3 linked regions of the Homo sapiens genome follow. The protein of the gene in region 1 purifies or fractionates together with the protein of each later gene. This does not show direct contact. Each region holds a gene or a part of one and is shown on either strand. Other genes may lie near its edges.

Region 1 (4,131 bases):
TCAAATTAATCTTATAAAAAAAAATTTATATAATAAAAGCCTGATACTTTGAAATTATAAATGTTTTTCTTTTGTATTCTGAGGGAATAAAAATATTGAAAATAAGCTTTATAATCAAGCCATTAAGATATTACCTTTAAAATATATCAATATATTTTATTGGTTTATTAAAAATTATGTCAACATATAATGCTCTCAGTAATTTAGCCAAGGTCAGACTACCTCAGTAACCTTAGAATTTCCTGATTTTGTTCCTTTTTGAAAGTAGATGAGGCCGGGCACGGTGGCTCACGCCTGTAATCCCAGCACTTTGGGAGGCCGAGGCTGGCGGATCACGAGGTCAGGAGATCGAGACCATCCTGGCTAACACGGTGAAACCCCGTCTCTACTAAAAATACAAAAAAATTAGCCGGCCGTGGTGGCGGGCGCCTGTAGTCCCAGCTACACCGGAGGCTGAGGCAGGAGAATGGCGCGAACCCGGGAGGCGGAGCTTGCAGTGAGCCGAGATCGCGCCACTGTACTCCAGCCTGGGCGACAGAGCGAGAGTCTGTTTCAAAAAAAAAAAAAAAAAAAAAAACAAAGTAGATGAAAAAGGAATTATTTTATGTTTCATGTTTCAGAATGATGTAAATTTATGTTGCTTGATTTGTGGAAGTCATAATCTAAAAAAAACAGCTTTCATATTTTTCAATTTGATATAGATTTTATAGTACTTTGGTGGAAATTACTCTGGAATTAATATTCTCTTTCTGTCACTGGAATTAATCTAACACTACTTTGAAATCGAGTATGATTCTACTACTTTGAAATACGTGTGTTTTAAAAACATTTTTGTAATTTTGTATGATATTTAGTATCTCATTTGTCTTTAACCTGGTTTTGTATACAAAGTAGCTGTTTATATATAAATGCTTAGCATTCTCCCAAAATTTAGCATGCAAAGATACTTGTAGATCCTTAGTAAAATGCATCTTTCCAGGTCCCATTATCTGATACTCTTATTGAAGCTTGGATGAGGTCTTTACTATATTTTTAATAAGTGAGTTAGGTGACTCTGGTGTAAATGATCCATAAACTACATGCTGGGAAAACGGTTTTATTTTGATTATCTATTTTTATAGAGTTTTACCTACTGTGTAACTGACTAGAGTATGGGAACTTAACATTTATACGTATCTGTTTAATGCAGTCTGATACCACAGACTTGAGCTGTCCAGTATGGCAGCCATCAGACATGTGTGGTTATTTAAATTAGATTTTAAATTTAAATTTAAGCCCTAAACAGTGTTTCATTGATGATTAATAGTTACTAATATATAAGAAAAGGTAACATCATTAATGTAAAAAGAAATCTGAAGTAATGGTTAATGAGAAACTATAAAGAAGTGTGATCGTGATTAATGATACTTACTGTGAAACACGCTGCAAGAGCCCAAAGGCCCAAGATCCAAGTCAGTGATTTCATCCTTTCAGTTGCCTCTGAAAGTAAGCACAATAGGTGATCAGTATGATTGTTTTTTATTAAAAAGTACTATTTAAAATGTCTCAACACTTGGATATAATGTAATACAAATATCCTACTATAGCATTTTTAGGGAATTTGCCTAATGTTATTTTGAATTCAGTATTACTGTGGGGCAATATTAGTAGGCTTATAAAATTTGACTTCAAAATAGTGGAAGTAGTTTTTATTTTTGACTTGTAAACTGATCCTGGGGATAATGCCAAAGAGTTGTTCATACATTGCTCTGAGCAATAGAAGCTTTTATGACTAAGGTTTTTCCCTTAGAAGTAACTACTTTAAAATGTATACTTATTTTCATTTGAACATTTTGATATTTTAAAAATAGTAGATACATTATAGATTTCTATGGATGGGTTTGAGATATTAACATTTTAACTAGATCTTATGTTACAAATTTTATTGCTTGGAAGAGCTTAAAAATAAGGAAAAAAAAAAGGAATCACCCTGTTGGATATAGTCTAAAAGAAGAGTCACATAATATATTTCCTAGTTTTAACAACATTCTATTACATTAATTTAGGCTGTGATGAGTGGTCTCAAAGTGCTTCCAAAAATCCATATATCAGAGACCAAGGCAAGAACATGGAGATGTCCAGGTATTCTACTCTCAATTGGGTCAAATTTTACAATATATTTCAAGTACATGATAGCTTGATTTTTGGGAAAGCAACTCCATACACCATGGTGCAAATTGGCTTCCTGTTAGTCAACTCTGCACATAGGTTGAGTGTGTGGTCTGAGCAATGCAAGTCTTGAAAGAATCCTATGGACAAAATTTCACTGGATATTCAATTATATATATGTGGGTGTGGCTATTCCTTTAACTAGTACTTTTCCTATATCCATTCTTAAATTAAGTTTGAAAAACAAAAGAAAAACCAATAATAAAAATATTCTGTAGAGCAATTCTGTCTTTTAGAGTACACCTGAGACTATTCTATCCTTATGAAGTTTCAAGAACTTTAAGGTACATCAGGAGGAAAAGTCAATTGTGTACTTGGATGGACCGATTGGCCCAAATGCCCAACATGAATGTTTTACTCTGACCTGTAAAAACCAGAATTTTTCAAAATTTATTGCATTTAATGACTTACAATTTCATGTAAGCTACTTATGTTTTTGCTGATAATGAATGTTCTATGAAAAGCCCATAAAATGTTATCGTTGAAAATGTTATCTTTGAGAAAAATTTCAATATTCAAAGTAAAAATATTCAGTTTATATTTCCAAGTACCTACCTTTGTGTGAGGATCTGTCTTACAGTTGATTAATCTGCTGGTCAAAATGACTCTTGCCAGTTGAAAGACGGCAAATAAAGGTGAAAAGGGACAAGAAATCTTAGCTCTTATATATTGTAATGGATTTCTGTTGGCAATAAGAGAAAGGCTATTCGGAAATAAAATAACTTCCGAGTTGATGCTCTTCAAAGATAGGAAAGTTGTTCTTGCCAATTTGGCAGTCTTTTTCTGGATTTTTTTTCATTCCTGAAAAGCATTGACCTGTTCAACATTTGCTGTTTCCTGAGGAAACAGATACAACAAATCATAATATCCTATCACCTCAGAAAAACAATCTGGGGCCTGTGGTGCACCATTTCCTCTTTATTTCAAAGGAAAAGCTGGCACGAGTTTTTTCTGTTCCAAGTGATTTAATGGGCCATCTTTTGTTATTTGCTAGTCTCATCATATTTTCTATTTTATTTCAAAGGCCTCCATATGTGCGAAATACAAATATTTTTAAACTGAATTCTAACATGATCAGGAGAACCTAGGGGAACAAAAATGATAATTAAAATTAAAAGTGCCTAATTAAATAAATATTGCTAAATACCACACACACACACATGCACGCAGGTACGATGCATGGCCAGTAATGTAAAGAATATCTAAAATTTCACTTGACTGTTTTGATCACTTTGCTATATGTTGTGGGTTTCATGTTTCTATTTTTTGGTTGAAATAATGAAATTGTATTATTGTTTTGTGCTTGAAAGTTTGTATATATCTTATCCTATGTATGGTTTTTCACAGTTGTCTTCATTGAGTAGATGTTTCTGAAGGATGATGAAAATGAGTGCTGCTATTAAGATTTGGATCTAAGTTTCAAAAAAGCAGGAAAGAAAAATCTAGTGGTGGAAGAGGGATAATAGTCAGAAGGTTCATGCAGTTTCTCAGTCTTAACTATATTTCATTTCTTTGTGATTATCTTAAGTTAGTAGACTATTTACAAGACCTTATATATGCATTTTTTAGGAAGTTCCTTTTGCCAGTGAAGAACTAAATGAGAACAACTGTGTTTTAAAAATCATGTGGTCCTTGCCATTATTAACTTGAGACATTTAATTAAATAAAAATATAATGACAAGCAAAATTTTTGATTATGGCAAAATTATACGGATATCTTGACTTTGAAGTGGATGTCTAATGGAAAATTACAGCCTTGTTTTTTTGATAAATCTAGGCTTTGAGCATAATTTTTCCTAAGCTAGATGATCCTATAATCTGTAGTTTTGACACATTATTATTTAATAATAACAGCTATTACTTATTAAACCTTTAGCATATTCCACGTGGCAGGATAAAATGAGTTCTATTGTTATCTCTGTT
Region 2 (3,415 bases), on another chromosome or scaffold:
ACACCTCCTCTCCTCAGTCCAGATTTTTTCACCATAACCTCTGGAATTCTTGGGCTGACCTCCATGTCCTCCACCTCTTCTTCAGACAGCTGTTTCAACTCTCCATAACGTGGACTTCTTTTTGTGCTGGCTGGTTCCTCACTCTTTCCACCTGCTTCCTTCTACTCTTCTTTCTCCTGCCTGCCCTTTAGTGGCATGCATGGAGCATAGTTGCTGTTGACAGTCATGCCTGAAGATGCTTTGTGTCCCTGTTTGAAACAGATTCCAAATGTTTTTCCTAGTGGGATTCCAGATCTCCTCTGAAAGACAATCTTCCGGGGGAGAGGCATGAGCCTCTACTGCCTGACAGGACCTCAGCCAGCTCTTGGCTCATGGAGAGCAAGGACCACTCCTCTTGCATGAGATCCAGGAGTCCCTGGCTTGAAGTTTCTACTTTGTTAGATGAATGTCAGAAATTTCACAGACCTGAGAAAACAGAGCTCATTACAACATAGCTTCTAGAATGTGGTGAAGACATCCCTGTCCAGTGGATAGAATAGAAAATAGAGAATAAGCAATGTAAAACATTTAATGTGATTTAAAAAGAAAAACAAAAACCTTTTGTTTTCAACTATTTTCTAATTTTCAACAAGAGTGAGCTTGTACATACCACACTAACCCAAAGAGGGGAGGCAGAAAAAGACATCAGCAACGGTCTTTGGAGTTTGGCCTACTGGCTGCCACCCTAAAGTGGGAGATAAAACTCTGGAATCTATCTTGTATCTGTTGGCCAAATTGCTTAATTCCTTCCTATTCTCTTCTTGTAAAATGAGGCACTAATATCTTACCGGCCAGCTCCAAGGGGATATAGAGCCAACTCACTCATTCATTCAACAAGCAACGAAAGCCAGCTATTTGTGTGGGGACAGTGTCAGGTGCAAGGATATGTGGCTGTTCACGAGCCGGCCCTAGACGGAAAACACTCTAAGGATAACAATAGCTGCTCTTGATTCTTATTTCTGGGGTAGCAGTGGGTCAGTCAAGGCAAAGCCGGGCTGTCATGGTGTCCTCTTTCAGGGAGATGTCATGGGCACAGGCATGGGGATCAGTCTTGCCCCTGGGGGCAGGCACAGGAAGTCCAATGCATAAAACCTTTGGCTGAGGCTTACTTAAGGTTCCTTTCCTTTTTTTCTTTCCTCCCTTGTACATAGTTTAAACTCTCCACACTAGGTCATTCAGGCCTGGAGTCACCAGAAAAAAAGAAGTCACTGTTTGGGGGATGGCAGATGATCAAGAGTTCAGACAGCTGCGATGAAGGATTAGTTGTGGGTTTTTCTCAGTGCCTTGCTACAAACTGTGTTGCAGTTCCATGTTCTGACACTATTAAATAATGTTTTCTCTGGCACCAATCCACCTTTTCCCTACAGTTTAAGTATTGATTTTTTTTTTTTTAACTGAAGTAGCTTCAGTTTACGGCTCACATTTAAAACCTAGAAACGTTATTTCCATAAATGTTGGCAGAAACTGGTCACTGTTTATTTCACCAGCAGTCATAATAAACCCCTTCCAACTGACAATCTAACAAATCATTTTCTGTTTGTCACTAAGGTGGGTTCAATAAAATTTTTGTGCTCTTAAAATTCCCCTAATAAGAACTCCTGAAAGCACACATTTCCTTCCTAAGGCAGCCCTTGTGGTCAGTGCTCGCAGTGGCTCTCTTTCTGAATTCCAGAGGTGAGCACAACAGGTTAGTTGTAGTAATTAGAAAGTCTCGAAAATCAGGAAGGTATTAGTATGTTGCATATGTCGGTATGTGCTCATTTCAGTCAGTCAGTCACTTTTAAATACATGGGTGTACACAAACCTCCCCTCAGCCCTTCGCTTCTCCACAAGTCAAGTGTGAACAGTAGCAGTGGCCACAAGGAGTATCTTTAGACCCTTCCCAGCGGGTGCCTCCTGTTTGGATGCCCTGAGTGGCAATGGGGCTGGACAGATGCCCCACCACGATGGGCGGCCTCCCCACCAGCCTGCAGAACCAAACAGCAACCACTGAGCTCCATGCTGATGGGTCAAAGGACAAGCAAGGCATCTTAGAGCAGGCCTGGAAGCTCCCACAAAGCTTACAAATGTGTTTGTTTTTTCGAAGACGGGCCAGACTTGAGGCTGAACCAATGGGGTCTCCATCCAGGAATCTTCTAGGCTCTTCCAAGAAGCACACTCAGGGAGGTGTTGGGTTGAGGTCATTGAGTGCAGCCTGCACACCAGGGTTTCATGGTAGGTTTGGAAGACCCAGCCCAGTTTTTGTTTTTTTTTTTTAAGGTTTGGTTTCCTTTGAAATAGAAATTTTGGTAACTCAGCTCTACAGCCTTCAATCAAAGCAAAGTACTGACAATATTGACTGTACTATCACCCGGGTCCTCAGGGGACATCACTAGGGTAGGGGTGGAGGTGCTTTTCAATCCCCAGTGAAAGGAGGCCAACTTCAGAGAGTGAACGAGGACCCCCCAGCATGCCAAGTCAACCCATACGTGGAACAACAACATGTACAGAGAGCTCACCCCAGGCTCACAAGACAAGGACCCAACAGTACCTCTGCAGGGCACAGAGGTGGAGTGAGTCACAACACCCAACCCTGCCTGGGTCCCTGTGGACGTCGGCTTTCATTTTCTCACACAGCTGGGAAGGACACTGCAGCCTGAGGCTATAAGGGGAGTTCACAGCTGCTGGGCACACTATTTACAGACTCAGGAATCCCGGAGCAGGGCGTCCACTCGCTGGGTCCCCCACTACTTTCTAGTCCTGTCTCATCACCCTCTTCCCCACTGAGTTCAAAAGGAAGTTTCTCTGGTGGAGTAAAGGTTGGGGTGAGGAAAGAAAGGAGAACCCGGCATCCCGTGGGTGAAGGCCATCTCCCCCAGCAGGAAGCCACGTAAGATCTGACGCATCGCTGGGATTGGGGGCTGCTGTGGACACGGTGCATCCACCAGTAATAACACTGACTCCTCGGGCCAAACACCCCCGCTGGGAGTACAGATTTTGTGGACGTGGGCAACTTCAGCCCAAGACAGAAGTGGTAGGGGACTGTCCTGGGTGGGTACCCTCAAAGGAGAACCTGATGCAGGGATTCTTGTGCAGGTGAGTGAGGACGTGGTGTCAGAAGGGATGAGGAAAGCAGGATAGAGCTGAAGGAGAAACAGAAGGATGTGCCCGAGTTCCCCGAGGTTGGTAGAGTGTTCTGGGGGATAAGGGAAGCCCAGAAAAAGCACAACGTGTGAGTGTTCCACCCCAATTAACCACCATTACACAAAAACCCAAACACTCTATCCTTTTATTCCTTCCCAGGCTATTGCAGGAAAAGTCTTGTTTCCCAAACGCTGTGCCTTTCTCCTCTTGCCTTCAACCCTGGAGGGGCCCAACTACACAAGTGGCTTATTTG
Region 3 (3,655 bases), on another chromosome or scaffold:
GCATAAAGGAGGACATAGAAATTAATGAAATATAATAACCCAGAAAGAAATGCTTGCATATATGGCCAAATGATTTTCATCGAGTGTGCCAAGATCGTTCAATGGGGAAGGGACCGTTTTCTCACCAAATGATATTGGGAAAGGTGGATATCCAAGGGCAAGAACAGTGGAACCTTTACCTAACACCATGTACAAAAAGTAACCCACAATAGATCAAAGATCTAAATGTAAGGGCAAAAACTATTCAACTCTTAGAAGAAAAGCTTCATGATACTGGATTTCACAATGATTTCCTGGTTGTAACAACAAAAGCATAGGCAACAAATAAAATGGATAAATCGGACTTCATAAAAATCAAAACCTTTTATATATCAAAGAACACTATCAAGAAAGTAAAAAGCAACCCACGAAATGATAAAAATATTTGCAAATTATATGTGTGATAAGAAATTAATTTCCAGAATACATGAAAAGCTACAAGTCAACAACAGCAAACATCCAAAAACCCAATTAAAAAATGAACAAAGGATTAAAATGGAGTTTTCTCCAAGGAAGATATACAAATATCAAATAAGCCCATGCAAAGTTCCTCAGCATCAGGAATACTTGGAGATATGCAAATCAAAACCACATTGTTACACCACCTCACACACTTTAGGATGGTTTTGATAAACAACAACAATGACAGCAACACAAAACAACAGGTGTTTTCAAGTAGATGGAAAAATTGGAGCTCTAGTGCATTGCTGATGGGAATGGGAAATGTTATAGCCACTGTAAGAAGTGGTGTGGCTCTCTCTCAAAAAATTAAACAATAAATTACCATTTGATCCAGCAATTCCACTTCTGGACATAATCCCCATAGAATTGAAAGAAATTTGAACAAATATTTGTAAACTGATGTTCAGAGAAGCATTACTCACACTAGCCAAAAAATGGAAACAACTGAAAAGTCCATTGAAAGATAAGTGGGTAGGCAAATGAGGTGTATCTATACATTGAAATGTTGTTCAACCTTAACAAGGAATAAAATTCCAATACATAGTGCAAAGTGGATGAACCTTGAAGATATTATGCTAACTGAAATAAGCCAGACACAAAAGGATAATTATTATATAATTCCATTTATAAAAGATAGTTAGAATAGCCAGTTACATAGAGACAGAAAGTAGAATGGTGGGTGCTAAGGTTTAGGGGGAGAAGGAGTGAGAGTTACTGTTTATTGGCTACAGAGGTTTAATATGGTAAGAGGAAAAAGTTCTGGAAATGGATAGTGTGATGGTTACACAACACTAAATTGCACACTTAGAAATAGTTAATGGTAAGTCTTATATTAGATATATATAAAGTGTCCAGTAGTCTTACCCTCTCTATAATTACACACTTTTTGGCACTGCCCCTTTCCTGCCATGCAGAGCCCTAGGGGTGAATCTCCCTATTTCTCCAGCTCTGCATCAGTCACTGTCCTCCGTGCTGTGTCCCAGGTGCTGTGCCCACAGCCTCATACAGCCGGTGACTTCAGAGCCAGGACACAGCTCAGGAGTCTGCCCTGAGGCTCCCTCTCTTTTTGTTTCCCTGCAGCCTGGCCCGGGGGAGGCTTGGCTTCAACTGGCAACTCGATTTAGCCAAATTCAGGACAGGCCACCAGGGCTCTTTCTCCACAGATGCTGGTCCCACCCAGGTGGAGTCAGGCAGGGCCAGTCACCAGAGGAGCCTGGAGCAGAGCAGGAAGCAGAGTCTGAGCTGCTCCTCCCTCACCCAAGGGGCTTCCTCCTCTCATCTGGGGGAAAAGTGTCAGCTTGTTTCAAAGCCTCGGATGTTCCTTGTAGCTCATAGAATAGGTACAAGAAAACAAAGACGTGGCAGAAGGGGATGTGTTGGTGACAGCAAGAAGCAACTTGATCTTGAGGACTCTCCTTCTTGTCCCTCTCTGAATCCTCTTCTACCACATAGGGCTCAGGGCTGATAAAGCCCGCTCCGTACCTTTCTCAGGCCAGACACAAGGTCAGCCATGAGAAAACAGAAAAACAAGGAGAAGAGAGTCTGTAGAGACAAATTGGGAGGGTTCAGGAGGAGAATTTGGGATTTGCTTGTGCCCATGGGACACAGGCTGGGAATAAAAATGTTTTCCTGACTCTTCTCTGAAAGCCAGAGAGACTCCACCTAAAACTCTATTGCCAAGCATGCTGGGATCCACTTACCAGAGACTTTGACTGTCATGGATTTGGAGCTTTCCATGCCAGTGGCTGAGTTACGAACAGAGCAAGCATAGAGCCCGCTATGCTTTGTAGTAATCTGGGGGATAAAGAGCTTTTGTCCTGATAGCTGAAACTTCCCATTAATTGTCCAAGAATATTCTGCTGGTGGGTTAGAGTCCGCGAAGCAGGACAAGTAGAGGTTTTCTCCTGAATGGTAATAGGTGAATGAAGGGTAAATTCTGGGGAGGTCTGGACCATCTGGAGCAAAGAGAATAAAGCCACAGGTGATGTCATCCGAGGGAAGGGGATGCTCCTGGTCTCTTAAAGGGACACAGTGACCCTCTGAGCCAAGACACACCCTCAAGTGCCAGCCAAACCCCCTCTATGTTCACTGAGCTGAAGCCTGAGGTATTCCCCTGTTTCTCCCATCACAAGCTGTGGGCCCCAAGTCTCCCATGACAAGAGCGTCCCCTCCCCTTATATTCTTGGTTAAGGCTGTGCCTACCCAGATCTTCCCAGGGCAGGAAGTTATGGCCAGCTCGGATGTCCAGAAGTAATGGTATCTATACTTGGACCAGAGAGAGAGTGAGAGGCCTGGCCTCTGGTCGTTTTGATTTAAGCTGGTGTCCTGGCCCACAGAGGAACAAAAGATACTCACAGAGGACATTCAGGGTGACTGGGTAACTGCGGATGCCACCATATCGGTCCTGTATTTCACATTGATAGGGTCCTGTTTCATTTCTCGTGACACTGGGTAGAATGAGGATCCTGTTTTCAATGGGTCGCTTTACCCTGGGACTGACCGGGAGGCTCTGACCATTTAGCCACCAAATGTAGGTGTAGTTCTCACTCTTAGGTTCACAGGTGAAGGCTAAGACATCCTTATTCTCCCTGGGGTTTAAGTTGTTGATGGTGATGTAGGGCTTGGGCAGCTTCGCTGTGTGGATAACAGAGAGAAGATTGTCCTGTGTGGCACCTTTGATTCCTCCACTGGCATCCTTCAATCAGAGTTGGCATCTCCCACCTCTCAGCCCACCCGAGTCCTTGAAAGCCAATAGCTGGTGCGTGTGTCACAAGACAGATGCATGATGATCTAAGGGCTCAAAGACTGTGAGGCCAGCTGCTCTGTCTTAGGGAAGCACAGACTTTCTCAAGTGTCAATTGAGCAGCAGTGTTGGGTCATGGACAGACACGTCAATGGGAGTCACAGCCCCTGGTACCCCTCCCAGTCCCTCCATAATCAGTTGACTGGCTGGCTCACCCTGGGTTCCTTACCTGGAATGTGCAACTGGTGGGCCCCTTCCAAATTCCATCCTACTTTGCCCCCATAGATGTGATTTCTCTGCAACTTCCATTTCCAAGGACATTCTAGAGATGAGTAATAATGGGACTTCCCATGGCCCTGAAACCCTGAAGATACTGAGCAGCCTGGCCTGGGACTGGATGTTTCAGCAGAA

What was found.
Region 2: the proteins of SMR3B (region 1) and CRTAP purify together in Homo sapiens (affinity purification with mass spectrometry; one large-scale study listed by BioGRID and IntAct). This does not show direct contact.
Region 3: the proteins of SMR3B (region 1) and PSG3 purify together in Homo sapiens (co-immunoprecipitation; one large-scale study listed by IntAct). This does not show direct contact.

The regions. Positions count from the first base shown.
Region 1 is NC_000004.12:70,381,845-70,385,975, reverse strand, and holds the start of SMR3B (submaxillary gland androgen-regulated protein 3B precursor), read right to left. Parts: upstream 2,846-4,131; 5' UTR 2,764-2,845; intron 1,480-2,763; 5' UTR 1,466-1,479; coding exon 1,412-1,465; intron 1-1,411.
Region 2 is NC_000003.12:33,144,909-33,148,323, reverse strand, and holds the end of CRTAP (cartilage-associated protein isoform 1 precursor), read right to left. Parts: 3' UTR 551-3,415; downstream 1-550. UniProt on the Homo sapiens protein: Necessary for efficient 3-hydroxylation of fibrillar collagen prolyl residues.
Region 3 is NC_000019.10:42,726,922-42,730,576, forward strand, and holds part of PSG3 (pregnancy-specific beta-1-glycoprotein 3 precursor), read right to left. Parts: intron 3,136-3,655; coding exon 2,857-3,135; intron 2,457-2,856; coding exon 2,202-2,456; intron 1-2,201.